5 linked regions of the Homo sapiens genome follow. The protein of the gene in region 1 purifies or fractionates together with the protein of each later gene. This does not show direct contact. Each region holds a gene or a part of one and is shown in the gene's direction. Other genes may lie near its edges. The genes, in order: BCAT2, CAT, SUPV3L1, HK3 and NADK2.

Region 1 (4,654 bases):
TCACTGCCTGTAGAATAGGAAGGTGGCTGGCAAGAAAAGTCCAAAGGGAAGAGAAAGTAGGGGGTTGAGACATCTGGATCAGAGGGAGGAGGGGCTGAAACTCCTGGGTTTTGGTCCGCAGGGCACTGGGGGACGCAGACTCCCCAGCTGGACCCAGGGGGGGGGCAGGGCCCGGGTGCGCTGGCGTCCCCCAGGTGAGGGGTGGAGCTGCAGGGCTGCTGCGGATTGGCTGTGGCCGGGGGGGCGTGTGCACCAACCGCTGATTGGCCGCGGCGGGGGCGGGAGCTGTCAGTGGGCCCCGACCCTACAGCCCGGGGCTGGCGGGTGGGGCAGGAGGACTGGGGCGGAGCGCAGAAAAACAGGGCGACGCCCTGTGAGGGAAGGGTCCCGCGGTTTGGCTGTTTGGGCCTGTGGCTGTTAGGGGTGGCAGGATAGTGACCCGGGGACAGGACTTGGGGGCACTGTGGGGGTAGAATTTGGAGACAGAGTGTCCCAGGGTAGGATTGCCGAGACACGATGGCCGAGGGATACGATTTTTTTTTTTTTTTTTTAATTTGAGACGGAGTCTCACTCTGTCGCCCAGGCTGGAGTGCTGTGGTGCAATGTCGGCTCACTGCAACCTCCGCCTCCCGGGTTCAAGCGATTCTCCTGCCTCAGCCTCCCGAATAGCTGGGATTACAGGCCCCCGGCACCACGCTCGACTAATTTTTGTATTTTTATGTATTTATTTTTATTTATTTATTTATTTTGAGACGGAGTCTCACCCTGTCACCCAGGCTGGAAATGCAGTGGCGCGATCTCGGCTCACCGCAACGTCCGCCTCCAGGGTTCAAATGATTCTCCTGCCTCAGCCTCCCTAGTAGCTGGGATTACAGGCGCACACCACCACACCCGGCTAATTTTTGTATCTTTAGTAGAGACGGGGTTTCACCATGTTGGTCAGGCGGGTCTTGAACTCCTGACCTTGTGATCCGCCCACCTCGGCCTCCCAAAGTGCTGGGATTACAGGCGTAAGCCACCGTGCCTGGCCTTAATTTTTGTATTTTTAGTAGAGACGGGGTTTCCCCATGTCGGCCAGGCTGGTCTTGAACTCCTGGCCTCAGGTGATCCACCCGCCTTGGCCCCCAAAGTGCTGGGATTACAGGTGTGAGCCACCAAGCCAGGACTTTTTTTTTTTTTTTTTTTTGAGACGGAGTCTCACTCTGTCGCCCAGGCTGGAGTGCAGTGGCATCATCTCGGCTCACTGCAACCTCTGCCTCCCCGATTCAAGCAATTCTCCTGCCTCAGCTTTCCGAGTAGCTAAGATTACAGGCGCCCGCCACCACGCCCGGCTAATTTTTTGTATTTTTAGTAGAGACGGGGTTTCATCATGTTGGACCAGGCTGGTCTCTAACTCCTGACCTCAGGTAATCCGCCCGCTTCGGCCTCCCAAAGTGCTAAGATTACAGACCTGAGCCACTTCGCCTGGCAGGGACCGTATTTCAAGTCCTGCCCTCCCACCAGCGCCTGCGCCCCGCAGCAGTGTCCGGCTCCCTGCCGACGCCCTGGAGCTGGGACGGCCTGGGGCGCTGGTCGGCCGCCTTCCCCCAGAAGGAGGCGTGAGCGGGGCGTGGCCGGAACGTCTCTCTTCGGAGCCGCGCCCCGGGCGGGCACAGTTACGCGCCGCACGGATCATGGCCGCAGCCGCTCTGGGGCAGGTGGGTTCGCAGCCCCGCGCCGGGGTCTGGGAAATAACCGGGGGAGGCGCACTTCCGGGAAGACCACTGGCCTGCAGCCGGTCCGACTCGGCGCCGCTCCTCCCGCCCTGGGGTTCCGCTGCAGGGCGCGGAGGAGGATGGCGCCCTTTGGAAAGGAGCACGAGGCTTTAATGGGGTGAGGGGGAGCAGGTAGACGCGGATGAGGTGGGGCAAGTAATTGGCGGGGAGGTAAAAAAAAAAAAAAAAAGGGAAACATGGTGGAGGACCCTGTAATGAGGGAGGCGTGGGGGTGGGGAGGTTGTGATTTGGGGAGCGGAGCCCTGGGGTGCGGTGGGGCATCAGCCTGTGCGGGAGCTGGAATAAAGGGGCCCAGACCTCCAGGGCCGGGTGCAGGTGAAGGCAGAGTTGGACCTCAAGTCTCAGCTCTGGGAATTGGACTCAAGGTCCTATTTTCTTGGAATGAAAGTTGAAAAAAATAAGAGATGGGGATTGCTGTGCTTCCCAAACTCCTATCTGAAGCTTTGCACCTGGATTGGAAATCGAGGCAGCGTCTCATGGTCAAAGTGACAGATGCTGCAGGCTGGCTGAGACGATCCCTTCTGACTGTGCGATGTCAAACAGCAGCAGCGTTTCCCAGAGTCTATGATTTCAGAGAACAAGGTTTCTCAGTGAGGAAGGAAACAGCCAAAGAAAGGGGTCATTACAAGCCTTCACAGCTGCGGTGTAACCTTGGGAGAACTGTCTGTTAACTTTACACCTGACTTTATTTGAGTCTCTTATCCTAGCTGATGAATGTCAGGGCAGAATTTCACTTTTTTCGGCTCTTAGTGACTGATAGGGATAGTCCTGGGATACCTGGGGTATGTGGGCAATCTGGGCTTTAGTGGTGACACTCCTGGACTGTGGTGGGGCAGTACTGGGCTTTGACAGGTCCACTTGGGACTGATGTGGACCGTCTCATCATGGCACAGTTCTGGTGTCATAGAATGGCCCTGAACTCATGATGGGACATTCCTAGGCTCTGATGAAGATAGAGATATCCTGTAATGGAGATAATTGGGCTGAGTCCTCAGCTGTGATGGGGACAGTCCCGGGGTGTGGAGAGGACAGTGCTGGACCATGGTAGGGACAGTCTGGAAGGTACTGGCCTAGACAGCAACATAGGGATAGTCCTGGGGATTGAAAAAGACAACAATGGGATTTTTTTTTTTTTTTTAATTTCAGACCTGGTGAATAGGAAATAAGCCCTGATATTTGGCAGAGACAATGCTGGTTATAATGGGGAAAAGTGCTGGGCTTTGGATAGGGGACATTCCTGAGCTGTTTGGGACAGTACTTGGCTCTGCTGGGGACCAGTTCTGATAAGTTACAGGCACAATCTGGACTTGTGATGTGGAGCATCTTGGGCCATCATAGAACAGCCCTGGTCTGTGATGGGGGAGAGTCCTGGGCTATAAAGGGGGCAGTTCTAGACGTGATGGGGTCATGTGTGGGCTGTGACAAGGGCAGACTGCGGTATGATGGGGTCTCTCCGGGGCCGTGATATGGGGACAGTCCTGGAGTATGGAGGGCACTGCTGGGCTTTGACAGTGACACTCCTGGTCTTTGATGGTGATACTCCTGGGCTGTATGGGACATAATGGAGGTTCTATCACATTATAGAGACCTGCCCTGTGAACCCCCAAACGTACTTTATTTCTTTGTCTCGTCTTTTCTTTTTGACCGAGTCTTGCTCTGTTGCTCAGGCTGGAGTGCCGTGGCACGATCTCGGCTCACTGTAACCTCCGCCTCATGGGTTCAAGTGACTGTGGTGCCTCAGCCTCCCGAGTAGATGGGCTCAAGCGATCCACCTGCCTCAGATTACAGGCATGAGCCACCATGCTGGTCTTTTTTTTTTTTTTTTTTTTTTTTTTTTTTGAGAGACACTCTATCACTCATGCTGGAGTGTAGCAGTGTGATCGTAGCTCACCACAGCCTTGACCAGTAGGTCAAGGTGATCCTCCCACCTTAGCCTTCTGAGTAACTGGAATTACAGGTGTGTGCCACCATACCTGGCTAATTTTTAAATTGTTTGTAGAGACAGGGTCTTGCTATATTGCCCAGGCTGATCTTGAACTCCTGGCCTCATGCAGTCCTCCCACCTCTGTCTCCTAAAGTGCTGTGATTACAGGCATGAGCTACTGAGCCAGCTGCCTACTTTCTTTCTTTGTTTTTTTTCTTTTTAATTGAGACAGAGAGTCTTGCTCTGTCGCCCAGGCTGGAGTGCAGTGGCACCATCTCGGCTCACTGCAACCTCCGCCTCCTGGGTTTAAGCAATTCTCCTGCCTCAGCTTCCCAAGTTGCTGGGACTACAGGCGCCCGCCACCACACCCAGCTAACTTGTATTTTCTGTAGAGACAGGGTCTCCCTATGTTGCCCAGGCTGGTCTTGAACACCTGGCCTCAAGCTATCCTCCTGCCTCGGCCTCCCACAGTGCTGGGATTACAGGCGCGAGCCACTGCGTGTGGCCTCTTTCTATGATTAGATCTATTTTGGCATCTCTTGTTTCTTGGCGTCAATTTCTGTTTTTGTTTTTTTTTTTTTCTGTTTGTGCGCCCCTTTCTGTGTTTCTTTTTCTCATCCTTCCTCTTCCATCTCTTACTCTCTTTTTTTCATCTTGGCTCTGAGGGCAGCTCTCCTGCCCACAGGCTGGCTGTCGCACTGTGTTTGTGTCTCTCATACTGTGGGTGTCCTATCCCTCTGGGCAGAAGCATGGCTGCAAGGCTGAGCAGTCTAGATGTCGCCACCCAAAGGCAATCTGGGGACCCACGCTCTGATCACCCCGGAATCCCTGGAGCCTCACACCAGCAAGACCACGCTGCAGGCCCATCTCCCAGCAACTCACCTAGCGACAAGTGACCACGCCCATTCACGTCCATCTTCCAGAATCAGTGCCAACTCACCCAGCTCACAGGGCA
Region 2 (3,950 bases), on another chromosome or scaffold:
GCTTTGCAGAACCCAGTGGCTTTCTCTGGAGCAGGTGCTGAGCACATTTTCAGGCTCCAAAATCATCTTTCTGCTCTTCAGAGCAAGTTTCTTAGCAGATTAGTGTTGAGATTTGTCAAGGGTTTCTGGGGCATCACTAAAAGTTTCAGGCAATGGCCCATCCTGTCAGATTTTAGTACTTTGGACACAGGAAATTAAAAAAGAGGGCAGATGGTATAAACATTGCAAAGCTATGTACCCGTGACAGTGTAAATGAAAGGTTTGATTGTGCTAACTCTCCTGCACTTTCTTTCTGTGTTCCTGTAGAAAGCTGATGTCCTGACCACTGGAGCTGGTAACCCAGTAGGAGACAAACTTAATGTTATTACAGTAGGGCCCCGTGGGCCCCTTCTTGTTCAGGATGTGGTTTTCACTGATGAAATGGCTCATTTTGACCGAGAGAGAATTCCTGAGAGAGTTGTGCATGCTAAAGGAGCAGGTAAGTGCTGTGTTTATTTGCTGTAAAAAGATTGTTTCACAGCACCTGGGTCAAGTGTTATTTCCCAAAGGATTGGAAGACCTTTAACACAAGTGTCAAATCTCCATTTGTGGGAGAAAGGAAAAACATCCAGCAGTAGGGAAATTAGTAAATAAATGATGGTTATTTCCTCAGGTTAAACATTATATATAAAATAGTTTCTTTTAAAAATAGCAGTCTTCCATTTCTCCCATCATTGAAGGAATAAAAATACAATAAGTCCTCACTTAACATCAATAGGTTCTTGGAAACTTTGACTTTAAACGACATGTAATGAAACCAATTTTATGATAGGCTAATTGACGTAAGCAAGAGTTAAGTTCCTATGGCATATTTCTGATTGATAAAACATCATCAAACTTCTAAATAGAGACTCAAAATACCTCTTATATTAAACATTGAAATAAATGTGAGCCATACATACCTTTAAGAAAGATTAGTAAAATAAGATAGTTATTTACTAGCTTATTCCAGTTCAAGGTGGTGGGAGGCCAGAGCCTGTCCTGGCAGGTTGGGGTACAAGGCAAGAGCCAGCCCTGGACAGGATGCTGTCCATTGCAGGGTGGACTCACACTGGGACCATTCAGACATGCCAGTTCACCTAACACGCACATCTTTGGGATGTGGGGGGAAGCTGGAGTACCAGGAGAAAACCTATCTAGACATGGGGAGAACATGCAGACTCCACACAGATGGTGGCCTCAGCTAGGAATAGATTTTTTTCTCATCAACGTTATAATGAAACAACGTTGAACAAAACAATGTTGTTTGAGGACCTGCTGTACAGAAATACAGACATAGACACATGCACTGCAATTGCAACTAAGTTTAAATGATGTACTTACTGGGTAATTACTGGAATGAGCTGCAAAATTTGGGGTAGTTATGTTAGGGTGGTGGGTTTGTGATGATTTTTCCTTTCCTTTTTTCCAACAATTTCTGTAAAACTTTCTTTATCGCTGTTATATCAGACACAAAAGATGGGGGTGGTATTTGAAAGAAAGTGAAAAACTCAGTTGGAAAAAGAGCTCCACAGAAAGGAAGTTTTTCTCTTAGCTTGCTGACTTGGACTTCCAGTTAGGACTTCTGCATTTCTTCATCTCTTCTTCCTGGATAAGGTTTCTCCCCATCTTCTCCAGTGGTTTGTGTGTATTTTTCCATCTTGACTTGTTTAGTTTATTGCTTGCTTTGTATCATCGTTGCTAAGTGTTGAAAAGATTCTTTCTCTTATGTTTTCATCTCCTCTTCTCTCTGTTCTTCACTTTCTCTCATAGGTCCTACCTGTACTTCAGGCCCCTCTGAGACCCTGTGTCCTTGGGCCAACCTTGACGACTTCTAGCCTCACTCACCTCCTTCTCTTGGCTCCAGCTATGTGGCATTCGACTTAGCACTGAATGATAGAATAGGGCTTTGCATTTCACCCTCTTTATTTTGTGTTTGGGCATTTCCCCTTCCTCCAACATACTGGAAGCTCCCAGAAGGCTGGTGCTAACCATCATTTTCTCTTGTCACCCAGGTGCCTGTTGAGGACCTGAATGTCTGAGTAATGGTCTCATGGTAAGGATTTCTGTGTCTTTCTCGTTAGGGGCCTTTGGCTACTTTGAGGTCACACATGACATTACCAAATACTCCAAGGCAAAGGTATTTGAGCATATTGGAAAGAAGACTCCCATCGCAGTTCGGTTCTCCACTGTTGGTAAGTTGGTTTATTGGCGTGATTGGTATGGCTTAACTCAACTTCACCTTTTGGGGATGTTTATAACTTAAAGAAAAAGTTATTAGAAAATAGGAAGCAAGCACTTCTCCAAATTATGTCAAGGTTTTACAGTAGAAGACATATTTGGAGACACATAGGAAGTTACTTGTATTTCTGTTTGTTGAGGTCTTAGGAAATCACACTTACACAGAGGCTACCTCTGCAATTCTGTGACATTTGGAAAGAGCTTTCCTAAAAGTGGTTGCCTCTAACAGAAGAATAGAGTGGAAATCTTATTTAATAACTATGCCTACAGCTGACCTTTATTGAGAATTAATTCTGTGCCAACTGTGGTTAGGTGCTTTACAGATATAATCTCTGATTTGTAGATCTACTTTGCAGAGTGGGATTCTTTTTATTTTTGAGAGGCTAAGTGATGTTTCTCACGTTACAGAGATAGTATTAGATCTATCATACTATATTTCAACATACCTAGTGCTTCACTAGTTCCGTTTCTGTGTCAGTCTCTGCATTTTAAAAATACTGTGGAATGTAAAAATAAATGAAATTAAGAACTAAGAACCAATATTTTAACTCATTTTCTTAATGTTAACCTCATCATTTTGACAACTCACTTATTCTGTTTGTCACTACTTTAAGCCTCATAATTATTTTCTTCCCTTATTTTAATTAAAAGTTCAATTACCTGTTTGAACAAAGTTATCTTATTATGGTAAATGAATGACATTGTCAGCTGTTATTACATGTGTTCTCTTATTGCTCTCAATTAATTATTTTGTTTGATTTGTGGACTGAATTAGCTGGTGGGTAGAAATAATAACCCGGGCACTTAAATACCTAATTTAGTTCTTGGAAGTGGATTAGAAAGGATGGATCCAGGTGCTTCTTTATGTCTCCAGGCTTCTTGGATGCAAAGTGCTGTGGCTTATGCTTCCTGTTTCCATTTGAATATTGTAGCTGGAGAATCGGGTTCAGCTGACACAGTTCGGGACCCTCGTGGGTTTGCAGTGAAATTTTACACAGAAGATGGTAACTGGGATCTCGTTGGAAATAACACCCCCATTTTCTTCATCAGGGATCCCATATTGGTAGGTAATAGAGTATTTTGCACTCAACAAATGTTTGTTGACTTAAATTGATTTCAAATAGGTTGGCATTTGAGGAGAAGCCGTGGGAAAGGCAGAAAGAAAAGAATGCGAGTTGTCTGGACTACTTTTTTCAACACATTTTTCTGTATTTAATAAGATAAAGTAAGAACAGTTACCATTGGTCTTAGATTTGTCATTTTAAGACAGATTGACTTAATGGGAAGTGAGTTTAGTTTTCCTTGCAGAGCATCGAAGATTAGTAAAAAGAGGGACTTTACTTTGGAAACAAGCAGAGGGTGTCTCTACATGCTCTGAGTCAGCAGGAGGGGGTGTGTGTGCGTGCGCGCATGCGGGAGGGTGGGTATATTTTTTCCGTGAAGAAATACTATAAATCCCAGCACTTTGGGAGGCCAAGGCAGGCAGATCACTGGAGTCCATGAGTTCGAGACCAGCCTGGGCAACATGGCAAAACCATATCTCTGCAAAAAAATACAAAAATTAGCCAAGTGTGGTGGCTCATGCCTATAGTCCCAGCTACTTGGGAGGCTGAGGTGGGAGATTTGCTTGAGCCCAGGAGGTCAAAGCTGCAGTGAGCTGTGATCATGCCATTGCAATCAGCCTGGGTGAC
Region 3 (3,950 bases), on another chromosome or scaffold:
AGGCCTGAGATTAATAAAAATTGGATAATCTTTGCCCATTAGAAGTTGGTGATTATTTCAAGGTTTGCATCAGAGATAATATTTTTGAAAATACTTGGTAAGGTTGTAAAGCAATATGTAAGCCAACGTAAAGTACTTTGGCTATGTAAAATGTTGTATATTTAATTATAAATCTTTAAAATTAAGAAACCCAGTTTTGCATTGACAGGACTGTGTGCTGAAGAGGTTCATTTGTGTGGAGAACCTGCTGCTATTGACCTGGTGATGGAGCTTATGTACACAACGGGGGAGGAAGTGGAGGTATTCGATTAGATGCTTTGTTCTCCAGGTGGCATATCAAATAGTCCAGAGTACCTAGGCAGTGGCTTCAGAGGCCCTAGATAATGCCAGCGTCAGAACTTAACTAAAAAGAAAGCTTCATTTTCTTGTGATCAACTAGACCATATATATTTGATTGAACCTCATGATCTGAAGTTCTGACAGAGTGGTCATCACACCCTAAGTCTTCCAAGAGTACAGGAAATTCTTCACTTCTTGACAAAACCTTGTGGGGCTTGAGTAGATCTCTTCGAATTAAATAAATCAGTACTCTTAGAAGTTGGAGACCCAGCAAGTTTGTCGTTTTCAAAGTGTTGTATGTCAGATATTGGGGCCTTTGATACACATCTAATTGCCAGACACAGTTTATATTCCTTTTTGAAATTCTTAGAGTTGGAAGTAACTGGTTTCCTTTTAATCCTGCTTCTCTTTTTCTTTACCAGAGTTCTATAGTAAAATGAATTATTATTATTATTATTATTTTTTGAGACAAGGTCTCACTCTGTTACCCAGGCTGGAGTGCTGTGGTGCAATCACAACTCACTGCAGTCTCAGCCTCCTGGACTCAAGTGATCCTCCCACTTCAGCCTCCCAAATAGCTGGGACTACAGGTGTTTGCCACCATGCCCATCTAATTTTTTATTTTTTGAGCAGAGGGCATCTCACTGTGTTACCAAGGCTGGTCTCGAACTCCAGTGCTCAAGCAATTCTCCCACCTTGGCCTCCCAAAGTGCTGGGATTATAAGCATAAGCCAAGGAAATAGTTTTGAATTAGCCTGTTATTTTAGTTTTGTGCTCAGTTTTCAAGGAGAGATAGTGGAATATAGTGGAAGAAATTTTGGAGTCCATTCTGTGTTTTGCCATTCTTAGCTTTGCATTCTTTAGACAAGTCACAGAAGGTTAGACTTGCAAAATGTGCCTCAGACATTAATTTTTTATTGGGCTCAGTTTTACTATTTTATAAAATGGAAATAGCAGTTAATAACCTTTCTGAACTTAACACATTGCCGTGAAAATGAAATATATGAGAAAAAGCTTTGAAAACAGGTGAAACACTCTGTTTCATCTTATTAATTTAGAGATGCCAATGAGAAGTGATGGTAACACTTATAATATCAAAATAAATGTTTTTCTGTGTTTTCTTTTGAAAAACATTGGTACTTATCAGTTTTTAGCTACTCTTAACTGCATTACAATCTTTTCACTTAATTACTAGTCACAAGAAGTTGAGTTGGGTGTGTCATTTTGCCATTTCATGTCTTTATTGTAGGTTCGAGACTATAAGAGGCTTACCCCCATTTCTGTGCTGGACCATGCACTAGAATCTTTAGATAACCTTCGGCCTGGGGACTGCATTGTCTGTTTTAGCAAGAATGATATTTATTCTGTGAGTCGGCAGATTGAAATTCGGGGATTAGAATCAGCTGTTATATATGGCAGTCTCCCACCTGGTAATTATTGACTTTCCTCGTGACAAGATATGAAATCTCCTATCTTTGCAATTTATGTTGAGATATATATAAAAAAATGGTAAACAATATTGAATTAAGCTGCTTGATGTATTGGTAATTTGTTAAACGTCATATAAAATAAATAATTTTCTATTTCATCTTAGTGGAAATAGAAGTATTTTAATTATAGTTCTTGTTAGTTGCTGCTATTATTAGACTGTATCTTAAATGTTGAGTTTATTATTTTCTTACAGAAATGTCATTGAAATCTGGTCTTGACCATGTCCTTTTAAGTTGTAGTCCTGAAATCTGTGTCCTCAGGAATAAGGCTAGTGTGGTGGGGGATTGTGTTGCTATATGACGGAGTATTTGAAGGAATGGATGTAAAGGATAAGTGGCTCTTTGAGGATATAAAGAAATAAAGTTTGAAACAGTAAAGGTTTTATCATTAAAAATGGGAAGAACAGGAGGTGAGGGTTTCCAAGATGTACTTAGCTTGATGTAATAAAAGACTGAGAACACTGATTTAACATAAATTGTTCTTGTTTTAGGGACCAAACTTGCTCAAGCAAAAAAGTTTAATGATCCCAATGACCCATGCAAAATCTTGGTTGCTACAGATGCAATTGGCATGGGACTTAATTTGTAAGTAATTTGTTTTTAATAAGATGAATATTTGGTGAGTTAAATGGTGGTTTTTTTGTTTTTCAGTTTTCTAATTGGCATTAATGACCAAACGCTATGATTTGGGAGAATAAATATTATAGGCTAGATTTGAGGTTTGTCTTGCCTACACCTATTGAGGGAAATAAAAAGAAAATATTAAATAGTGCCAGGACTTTTCTTAGGGACAGGGTCTTGCTCTTTTACCCACGCTGGAGTGCAGTGATCAAATTGTAGCTCAGTGCAGTCTTGAACTCCTGGGCCCAAGTGATCCTCCTGCCTCAGCCTCCAGAGTAGCTGGGACCACAGGTGCACACCACAAAGCCTGGTTATTTTCTTTTTTTTTGGGTAGTGACAAGGTCTTACCCTGTTGCCCAAGCTAGTCTCTAACTCCTGGCCTCCAGTGATCTTCCCACCTCAGCCTCCCAAAGTGCTAGGATTACAGGCATGAGCCACTACACTCGGCCCACACTAGGACGTTTGAATGCTGCCCACCACTACTGCTAACCTATTGTACTACGTCACTTTACTTTCAGTTTCTCAGTCAGGTGTCCGAGTGCCTATTATGCACATGGGGCTAGTTATTATCTCTAAATGATAACAATGTTAAGCCTAAATATTATTTATTTATGTATTTATTTATTTCTGAGACAGAGTCTCACTCTGTGCCCCACGCCGGAGTACAGTGGTGTGATCATGGCTCACCGCAGCTTCAAACTCCTGGGCTCAAGCGGTCTTTGTGCCTCAGCCCCCCGAGTACTAGAGCAACAGGCACACACCACTGAACCTAGCTGATGTTTTTAATTTTTTGTAGAGACTTGGGTCTTGCTATGTTGCCCAGGCTGGTTTTGAACTCCTGGCCTCAAAACAATCCTCCTGCCTCAGCCTCCCAAAGTGCTGGGATTATGGGTGTGAGCCACTGTGCCAGACTTTCCTTAATTTTGTAAGTGGCAGTCAAGGTTGCAAGAGGACCTAAGCTAGTATTGGAGTGAGCATTATGCAATGACCCAAGTATTGGAGGGTTTTTCATACAGTCTGCAGGATCACTTTTATTTCTGTTTCAGGAGCATAAGGAGAATTATTTTTTACTCCCTTATAAAGCCCAGTATCAATGAAAAGGGAGAGAGAGAACTAGAACCAATCACAACCTCTCAAGCCCTGCAGATTGCTGGCAGAGCTGGCAGATTCAGCTCACGGTTTAAAGAAGGAGAGGTTACAACAATGAATCATGAAGATCTCAGTTTATTAAAGGAAATTTTGAAGAGGCCTGTGGATCCTATAAGGGTAAGAGGTAACATGTTAACTACTGCTTCTCTGTGGAGGAGAGTCATTCTTTCCCTCACCCACCATCCAGACTCTCACCTCAGACACATTTCTGGATACAGACATAAGTGAAAGAAAATTTTGTGCCATGAAAACTGCATTAAAAAAAGCCCTACTTTATTGCTTTGGAGAGCCACAGAGTTCTTTGATCAGAGAATGGTATGCAAGTGAAGGTCCAGATTGACAAAGTTTAGT
Region 4 (3,950 bases), on another chromosome or scaffold:
TCCACCCCTGTCCATGACCCCTGTTGCCTTCAGGATGAAATTCATGTGCCTTAGCCTGGCACAATGGCTGTCCCTTTTCCAGCCTGCCTGCTTCTCTGGCAGGTCTTTGGTTCCCTCTTTGTTCCAAGCCTCTAGCATGTCCCTGACCTCCCAACCACAGCAGCATGTCCATCTATTACATGTGGCCATCTTGCTCACTGCCTGTGCTAATCATACTGTGATTGTTGATGAGACTGTGAGGTCCCTGAGGGCAGGGCCTAGGTCTGCTTCATCTGTACCACAACGTCCAGCATAGCAGGCATCAGGAACTGGTGAATGTCAATGAATGACAGAATTAACGAATGGCATTTGGACTGAAATCAGCCTTTCCAGTGCTCTCTCATTAGACATGCTTGTGAAAAACAAGGGCCTTCTGGTTGACTGCTACAGGATCTTTGATGGTTGGAGGTTCTGAATTCTGCTCCCAGCTTCCTTCCTGGTCCCCTTCAGAAGGAAGGAAGTTGGTCTGGGTTACAGACTCCTAGGGCCTATAGAGTAAATGGTTGACCCAGGTTGTCCCTTTTCTCCCATAGGTGGCCACCTTCCACTGTGGAAGCTCATGGACTCCATTGGGTCTTCAGGGTTGCGGCAGGGGGAAGAAACCCTGAGTTGCTCTGAGGAGGGCTTGCCCGGGCCCTCAGACAGCTCAGAGCTGGTAAGTTCAGCACTGGGTTCCTGTTTCATGCTTGTCTAAGGCCTTCAAGAGCAGCGTGACTGAAGCTGCCATGGGGCCCTGGGCTCTCACCCATGCAGCCCCTTTCCACTGAGCTTTTCATATCTGAGCTGGTAACGATCTCCTTTCATGCTCCAAACAACTGCAAGGTTGGGCTGATCATCTTACAGGTGATGAAGAGGGATATAGAGAAGTGTTATGACTTGAGTTTAAGACATGACAGGAGCTTGAGCTGAGGTGTTTCAGCTCCAAACATGTCATTTTTGCCACCTTGCCACACAGGTGCCGCTCCCGCCCCAAGTGGGTGACACAGTCTAGAGTGGACTTTCTCAGGGTTATCTGGTCAAAAGTTGTGTTCTTGAGACCTTTCCTTTCCCGCCTCTCCAGTTCCTCCTGCATGTCTCCCTCAATGTAGCCGCTACAATCAGGCACACAGACGATTTTAGTGCCAAACTCATGCCTGAGGCTTGCTCAGAAGTGAGTTTCTTCTTTTTCTGTCATCTTGACCAAGATTTAGAAGCTGTCTCATACCACACCCTTGAGCAGGAAACTCTTGTGTAAGCCATTTCATATCTCTTAGTCTCTGTTTCCTCATCAGTAAAATGGAGGAAAATAAAGTCTAATCCTCCCCACCCCCTGAAGGCTAATGGAGATAAAGGACTTGCCTATGGCCGGGCGCGGTGGCTCACGCCTGTAATCCCAGCACTTTGGGAGGCCGAGGCAGGTGGATCACCTGAGGTCAAGAGTTCAAGACCAGTCTGGTCAACATGGTGAAACCCCGTCTCTACTAAAAATACAAAATTAGCCGGCATGGTGGCACATGCCTGTAATCCCAGCTACTTGGGAGGCTGAGGCAGGAGAATCGCTCGAACCCGGGAGGCAGAGGTTGCAGTGAGCCAAAATTGTGGCAGTGCACTCCAGCCTGGGCAACAAGAGCAAAACTCCATCTCAAAAAAAAAAAAAAAAAAAGTCCGGGCGCAGTGGCTCAGGCCTGTAATCCCAGCACTTTGGGAGGCCGAGGTGAGCGGACCACAAGGTCAGGAGATCAAGACCATCCTGGCTAACACGGTGAAACCCTGTCTGTACTAAAAAATACAAAAAATTAGCTGGGCATGGTGGCAGGCGCCTGTAGTCCCAGCCACTCGGGAGGCCGAGGCAGGAGAATGGTGTGAACCCGGGAGGCAGAGCTTGCAGTGAGCCAAGATCGTACCACTGCACTCCAGCCTGGGTGACAGAGCGAGACTCTGTCAAAAAAAAAAAAAAAAAAAGGACTTGCATAGAGGAGGTGCCCACTAAAGGGTACTTGAGTCATTCTCTGCAGTTTCTTTAGTTTTCTGGCATATTCTGACATCCACTTGACTAGGCTTGTTGCCCAGATTGTGGAGGCATTACCCCTCGCTGCATTTCATGCTCCCACTTCCCCCTTGTCCAACCTGTACCCCAGACCCTGCTGCAGACAGTTCTTCTGTGCCTGACCCACAGCCGTGCCTCAGGAGTGACAGCGGTGGCTGGGCCACAGTGCCTGCCCAGCCAGGACTGGCTCTAGGGCCTGCTGTCATCTCCTCCCTCGCTTCTTGCCCCTCCCTGATGACACTCCTGTGCAGGCCCACATCTGCCCTGCTGGCTCCATCACATACACCTGCGGTTGAAAGAATCCCTTTCGGCTTTGGGGGACTTCACAGGGACACCAAATTTCCCATGGTCCTGGACCCCCAACTCAGCACCACAGGCCTTACCCTGTGCTCCCCTTGCCATGACCTTAGGTTGAAAAAAGTTAGTTAACCACGTGTGGCCAGTTCCCAGTACCATCTCAGAGGCCCTTCCCCACCCCTTCCACCAGGCTTCTCTTTGTCATCAGAGAGGGTATGGAGTCAGGCTCTCCAGGCTGGGTGTGCTTTGTGCTCTGAGGACAGGGAATCCGTGTTCCACTGAGCATCTCCTATGTGTGACACTGTTCCTCCACTTCAGGTTTGCTGTCGTCTCAGTCCTCATGGCATCTCTGAGAAGTAGGTACTATTGTTCCTGCTAGATAGAGGGGTTGCTTGCTCAGAGAGGTGAGGTGATGGGCCCAGGCCAGCAACACAGCAAGTTGGTGACAAGAGCCAGTGTTGAAACCACATTGGACTTCACATGCTCTCTAATGCCTTTCTCCTTGCTCTTCTGTCTGAGGTCTCTCCCTGCTCTTCCTGGGGTGTCAGGGGTGGCTCCGATAGCTTCTCCTGGCTTGTGTGTGCCTCACCAGGATCTGCCAGGGAAGTCCTTCTGTCTTTCTTGCAGTTCTGCTGTCTTCTAGTCTCTCCTCCCGAACATCTCAATATGCCCAAGAGGAAAAGGAAGAAAAACAATTTGCCCAAGCCATTGACTTCTCCGTGACTCTACTGTTTTCATGAAGCAATACTAAAACGCCCCTCCCATCCCAATGGCACTTGGCACTTCCACATACATTACAGCCTTTAATTCTTATGCCACCACAACCATCCAATCAACAAATCCTGCTTCCAGCTGGTGCTCCTCGTGGCCCTCAGATGTAGCCTTGAGCAAGACATAGTCCCTGGCATTGGGGGACTTCCAAGTACTATTATTTTCTCAGTTTTGCACGAAGAGGTGACTGAGGCTCAGAGAGAGGTGTGACTTTCCCAGGACTGCAGAGCCAGAAAAAGGGAGTGCGAGGACTCAGCTGTAAGTTTTCTCAAGCCGGATCATCTGGGGTTTCTTTCCAGCAACTTTCATCAGCCTTGAGTTCTTTTCAAGGGAACTTTCTAGGTTTTATAAAGCTTCACATTGACATAGAAACATCTCTGCATTCAGGTAGATATGGGTTCAAATTCTCCCCTGCCCCTTCACAGCTGCTTGGCCCTGCAGATGACTTGCCCTCTCGGAGTCTCCGTTTCCATATTTCTAACACTTGGGCAGCTGGGGCTCAGAGGGGCAAGGCTGAGACCCCGCCTGTCCTGCAGCTCTTTGACTTTGCTGCCCACTGCCTGAGTTCCTGGATGTGCAGCCTGTGAGCAAACAGGGTCTGCAGCTTGGCTTCAGCTTCTCTTTCCCTTGTCACCAGATAGGCCTGGTCAGGGTGAGATAGAGTGGGCATGGGCACCCCTAGCAGGCATGGCTGCTGGAAGCATGTGCTGTAAGGCAAACGTGTAAGTGGACATCTGGCACCCCAGTTAGGATGATTCGCCTTCTTAGGGATCTGTTTCCCATTCTCTTCCTAAAGCAAGAGGTGGGACTGAGTTGT
Region 5 (3,950 bases), on another chromosome or scaffold:
GGGCTACTGTTTATTTATGATAATATGCTATATAATGTATACATGTTGTTTTATATTAGCTATTATGTTACATAATAACATATATATATATAACACATATACACTTTAAGCATTTTTCCCCCTTTTTCAAGGAAAATATATATATAAGATATATATATTTATAACATACATTTTCCCCCTTTCCTTTTTCAACAGCAAAACGACAAGGAAATTTGAGTCTTCCATTGAACAGAGAATTGGTAGAGAAAGGTCAGTGACAAATGATAATAATCACTAACAGTTTAGTTCTGTTTCAGTTTTAAGGATGATAGTGTGAAGTGTTGTTTAATTAGCAAAGTACTTTTTTTTACTCAAACATGCTTTTAATACAATATCCCCTTAAATGTCTTTAAGCAACATAAAGATTAAAGTTGGACTTTTGTTGTGATTTTTAGTCAACCCTGAAATATAACTCTTAAGTCAAAGCAGTATAACTGCAAACATGTCCTGGGGGATAGGGAATTACAGAAAAATCCTTATCTCACAAATAGGAAATGCATAGCTAAATTCAGTAAGCCATTAATATCCTCTGAATGAGATGGAATTCACTGAGCTATGAGTGCTTATCTTCTTATTCACTCAAATATTCTTTTTAACATTCTTCTCCCTAGTTTTGCCTGATTACCTCACGATTCCTGTAAGAGAATTAGTGCTGTTAGAGAAAGAATACTTATGAAGAAATCTGAAATCGTAGGTTCCATTTCCAGATCTACTACATCAGCTGTGAAACTTGGGCAAGGCTGTGATCCTCTACAGTTGTAAAAAGAGGGGGTTAAAGTAGATCATCTAGCTGGTGTTTGTAGAAGTTCTTCAAATGTATTCTTTAAATTCTGTTTAAAACAATTTAAATTTTTAAACTGAAAAACACATTCATTTGATTTGCGTATCAGATTGTAACACACTGAAGTCTACTATCTACCAGGATCATTCTTGTACACACCTCAAAGTAAAGCTTTTTTTGCTCTCTGCATTGAAGGATATCCTAAAATTTCAAGCTAGATTGTTTTTTATAAAACTCCAAACCCAAATGTGTTTAAAGTTACATCTACCAACCTATGTATTTTCTCAACATATATGACAAAAAATATATAGACACCAAGTGAATATTGACACATGTAAGACTGCAACTGTCATCCATAAACACAAATGCTTGGATTTATCAGAACGGCCTCATTCTCATTGGTTACCTTAACATGAGTTAGCAATATCTTTTTCTTTTTTTTAATTTTATTATTATTATACTTTAAGTTTTAGGGTACATGTGCACAACGTGCAGGTTTGTTACATATGTATACATGTGCCATGTTGGTGTGCTGCACCCATTAACTCGTCATTTAGCATTAGGTATATCTCCTAATGCTATTCCTCCCCCCACCCCCTACCCCACAACAGTCCCCAGTGTGTAATGTTCCCCTTCCTGTGTCCATGTGTTCTCATTGTTCAGTTCCCACCTATGAGTGAGAACATAACCTGATACAATATTTGAACAGTGTCAGTTTATCTTTATTGTTAGGTTTCCACATAAGACCTCCTTTGTTGGGGGGACAGTTTGCCTCTAAAATAGTTTGAAAAAAGAAGCAAATCTCTCAAGCCCCGTTCAGCCTTCTAAAATGGATTCTGGTCTCCTTCACTCAATTTGAGACCTACAAGATTATTTTAATCATGGTTCATGAATTAGCACCAGCAGTAAATCTGTATCAAAGGAAAGTTAGGTATATATAGTAATTGCTTCTTAATTATATAATTCAACTTAAAAAATAATATATATAAAATAACTGAAATTTATATCAGGTATATATATAAATTAAGGATGTATATATATATTAATTTATATTATATCTATATATATATAAAAATATCTGTGACTTTCTTCTTTTAGTAAACATACCAAAGCTTTACTTTAATGAATGGCATTCCTTTCAAGATTTGACTATCTTCAGAAGCAACAGTGAATGCCAGTGATGCAATCACTGTTACAGACATTTATGAAATTACTCTTGAAATTTCCTTCAGAGCTAGCATGCTTTTTTGTGGTGTGTTCTCATGAAGCCAAATTTTATTTTTGTGGGTGAATTAGATTTTTTTTAAAGTCAGTAATTCAAATGAAACTTTTATAAATAAGGTAGATTATCTGACAGTCTTTTAATTTTTTTAATGTAGTACTCAACTAAACTTTCAAGCCTGATATCTTTGTAGTTTTCTCAACCAATTTGTGCTTTGTATTCCAGCCCTCCTGTACCTCTTGATTAGAGAGAAAGCAGGTCCCAAAGATTTCTAGAAAATATGTTGAGTAATGGGGGTGTATTGGAGAAAGGATATTGCCTGTCATTGTTTGAGACTGCATTTTATATCAAGCTGTTTGCTTATTATCATCGTTATGAGCTCTTTGACATGGTATTTTGGAAAGAACTTGGTAGGGCCATATGGCAACTCAAGTTCCTTTTTTGAGTGCATCTATCTAATTCCTCTATTGTTTAATTACAAGTTTTGAAGCTAGTGTTTTTTATTTTTTTCTTTTTCCCCAGTTGTACCTATTCCTACTGTATTGTGGGTGATGTATGTTTCTGTGGGCAAATCATGGTACCTAATTCTTATTTATAAGGTTTTTTGTTACTGTGTTTTAATGGAATATGTGTTACGAGTTTCAAGAAACTTGTTCCCAAATATACTTTTGGAACAGAATTTAAATGGGGGATGGCATCTATTTTTTGTTTTGCCCTTCTCAGAAGTGACCATCTTTTATTGAGTGTGCTAATTTTTTTTTCTTTGTAGTAACAAATGAATATAATGAATCACTGCTCTACAGTCCGGAAGAACCAAAAATACTTTTCAGTATTCGAGAACCAATAGCAAATAGAGTTTTCTCAAGCAGTCGTCAGCGTTGTTTCTCCTCAAAGTAAGCATCCTCAATCTGACTTCTGACTGTTTTCATCCCTTTCATTGTTACAAAGCCCACTTGGTTTGAAAACTATTTAATTTCATTAAATTTGCTCATTCAAACTTAATCTAGCAGGAAAAGTAGAACCTGTGAAAGTAACAAGGTATCATGCTAACCCGGCTAAAATCATATTTTCTTTTACACTCATTGTGCCATTTTAGAGAAGCTAAAACTTAAGTGACTAGAAAGGGTACAGTTATTTATTTCAGTGATTTGTTGGTTTTTAAAAAATGAACGAAGACACAATAATTGTAAAAGAAGCTGAATAGAAAGCCCCTTCTTTTTCATAAGCTGTAGAATAAAAACACAATAAACACTGATAGAAAACTTAGATTGCATAGCAATAAACCTTTAGAATAGTATTCATTTCTTCTAGGTTTTCCCTAAAAGTGACCTCCTGCCTATTGAATTTGCTTCATTTTATTTTTGGGGAGAGAGGATATAAAAAAGTGGATGTAATTTCTTATTTTGTAAAGGTTCCCCAATTTTCCAAATTAACAAGAAAATCTAAAATTCGGAGAAAATGTCATCTATCTCATGGCAAGCAGAAAACAGCTTAAGCAATTAACAAATTGCTGACCTTAGTGTACATATTTTCTTTTTATAGACATACAATTAATTTTTTCCCCAGGTTAGACACAAATAAGGAAATTTATCTTAACATTCATGTTGTCATTTGAGAGTTAATTTGATTAATCCACAGATGTGTACTCAGTTTGGGTGAGACGACAAAGACTCCTTCAAAGATATATACTACTTATATTTAAGTTTTTGCTAATAGGAGAATAGCTTTGTGATTTTGACATGGAAAAGATTTCTTAAACATGTCATAAAAAGCACTATAACAACAAAAGATTGACAAATTGAACTACACTGGAAGTAAGAACTGCCAGTAATCCAAAGATACCATTAAGAAAACAAAAAGGCAGAGCGAGAAAGATATTTTCAGGACCTATATCCAGCAATGGGCTCA

Evidence for each region.
Region 2: the proteins of BCAT2 (region 1) and CAT fractionate together in Homo sapiens (co-fractionation; one large-scale study listed by BioGRID). This does not show direct contact.
Region 3: the proteins of BCAT2 (region 1) and SUPV3L1 fractionate together in Homo sapiens (co-fractionation; one large-scale study listed by BioGRID). This does not show direct contact.
Region 4: the proteins of BCAT2 (region 1) and HK3 fractionate together in Homo sapiens (co-fractionation; one large-scale study listed by BioGRID). This does not show direct contact.
Region 5: the proteins of BCAT2 (region 1) and NADK2 fractionate together in Homo sapiens (co-fractionation; one large-scale study listed by BioGRID). This does not show direct contact.

Annotation. Positions count from the first base shown.
Region 1 is NC_000019.10:48,808,027-48,812,680, reverse strand, and holds the start of BCAT2 (branched-chain-amino-acid aminotransferase, mitochondrial isoform a precursor), read left to right. Parts: upstream 1-1,651; 5' UTR 1,652-1,673; coding exon 1,674-1,697; intron 1,698-1,843; exon of another isoform or gene 1,844-2,337; intron 2,338-4,444; exon of another isoform or gene 4,445-4,654. UniProt on the Homo sapiens protein: Catalyzes the first reaction in the catabolism of the essential branched chain amino acids leucine, isoleucine, and valine. May also function as a transporter of branched chain alpha-keto acids.
Region 2 is NC_000011.10:34,448,886-34,452,835, forward strand, and holds part of CAT (catalase), read left to right. Parts: intron 1-306; coding exon 307-478; intron 479-2,102; coding exon 2,103-2,213; intron 2,214-3,191; coding exon 3,192-3,322; intron 3,323-3,950. UniProt on the Homo sapiens protein: Catalyzes the degradation of hydrogen peroxide (H(2)O(2)) generated by peroxisomal oxidases to water and oxygen, thereby protecting cells from the toxic effects of hydrogen peroxide.
Region 3 is NC_000010.11:69,196,784-69,200,733, forward strand, and holds part of SUPV3L1 (ATP-dependent RNA helicase SUPV3L1, mitochondrial), read left to right. Parts: intron 1-208; coding exon 209-300; intron 301-1,588; coding exon 1,589-1,769; intron 1,770-2,320; coding exon 2,321-2,414; intron 2,415-3,496; coding exon 3,497-3,716; intron 3,717-3,950. UniProt on the Homo sapiens protein: Major helicase player in mitochondrial RNA metabolism. Component of the mitochondrial degradosome (mtEXO) complex, that degrades 3' overhang double-stranded RNA with a 3'-to-5' directionality in an ATP-dependent manner.
Region 4 is NC_000005.10:176,892,808-176,896,757, reverse strand, and holds part of HK3 (hexokinase-3), read left to right. Parts: intron 1-572; 5' UTR 573-598; coding exon 599-694; intron 695-3,950. UniProt on the Homo sapiens protein: Catalyzes the phosphorylation of hexose, such as D-glucose and D-fructose, to hexose 6-phosphate (D-glucose 6-phosphate and D-fructose 6-phosphate, respectively).
Region 5 is NC_000005.10:36,196,526-36,200,475, reverse strand, and holds part of NADK2 (NAD kinase 2, mitochondrial), read left to right. Parts: intron 1-195; coding exon 196-249; intron 250-2,811; coding exon 2,812-2,935; intron 2,936-3,950. UniProt on the Homo sapiens protein: Mitochondrial NAD(+) kinase that phosphorylates NAD(+) to yield NADP(+). Can use both ATP or inorganic polyphosphate as the phosphoryl donor.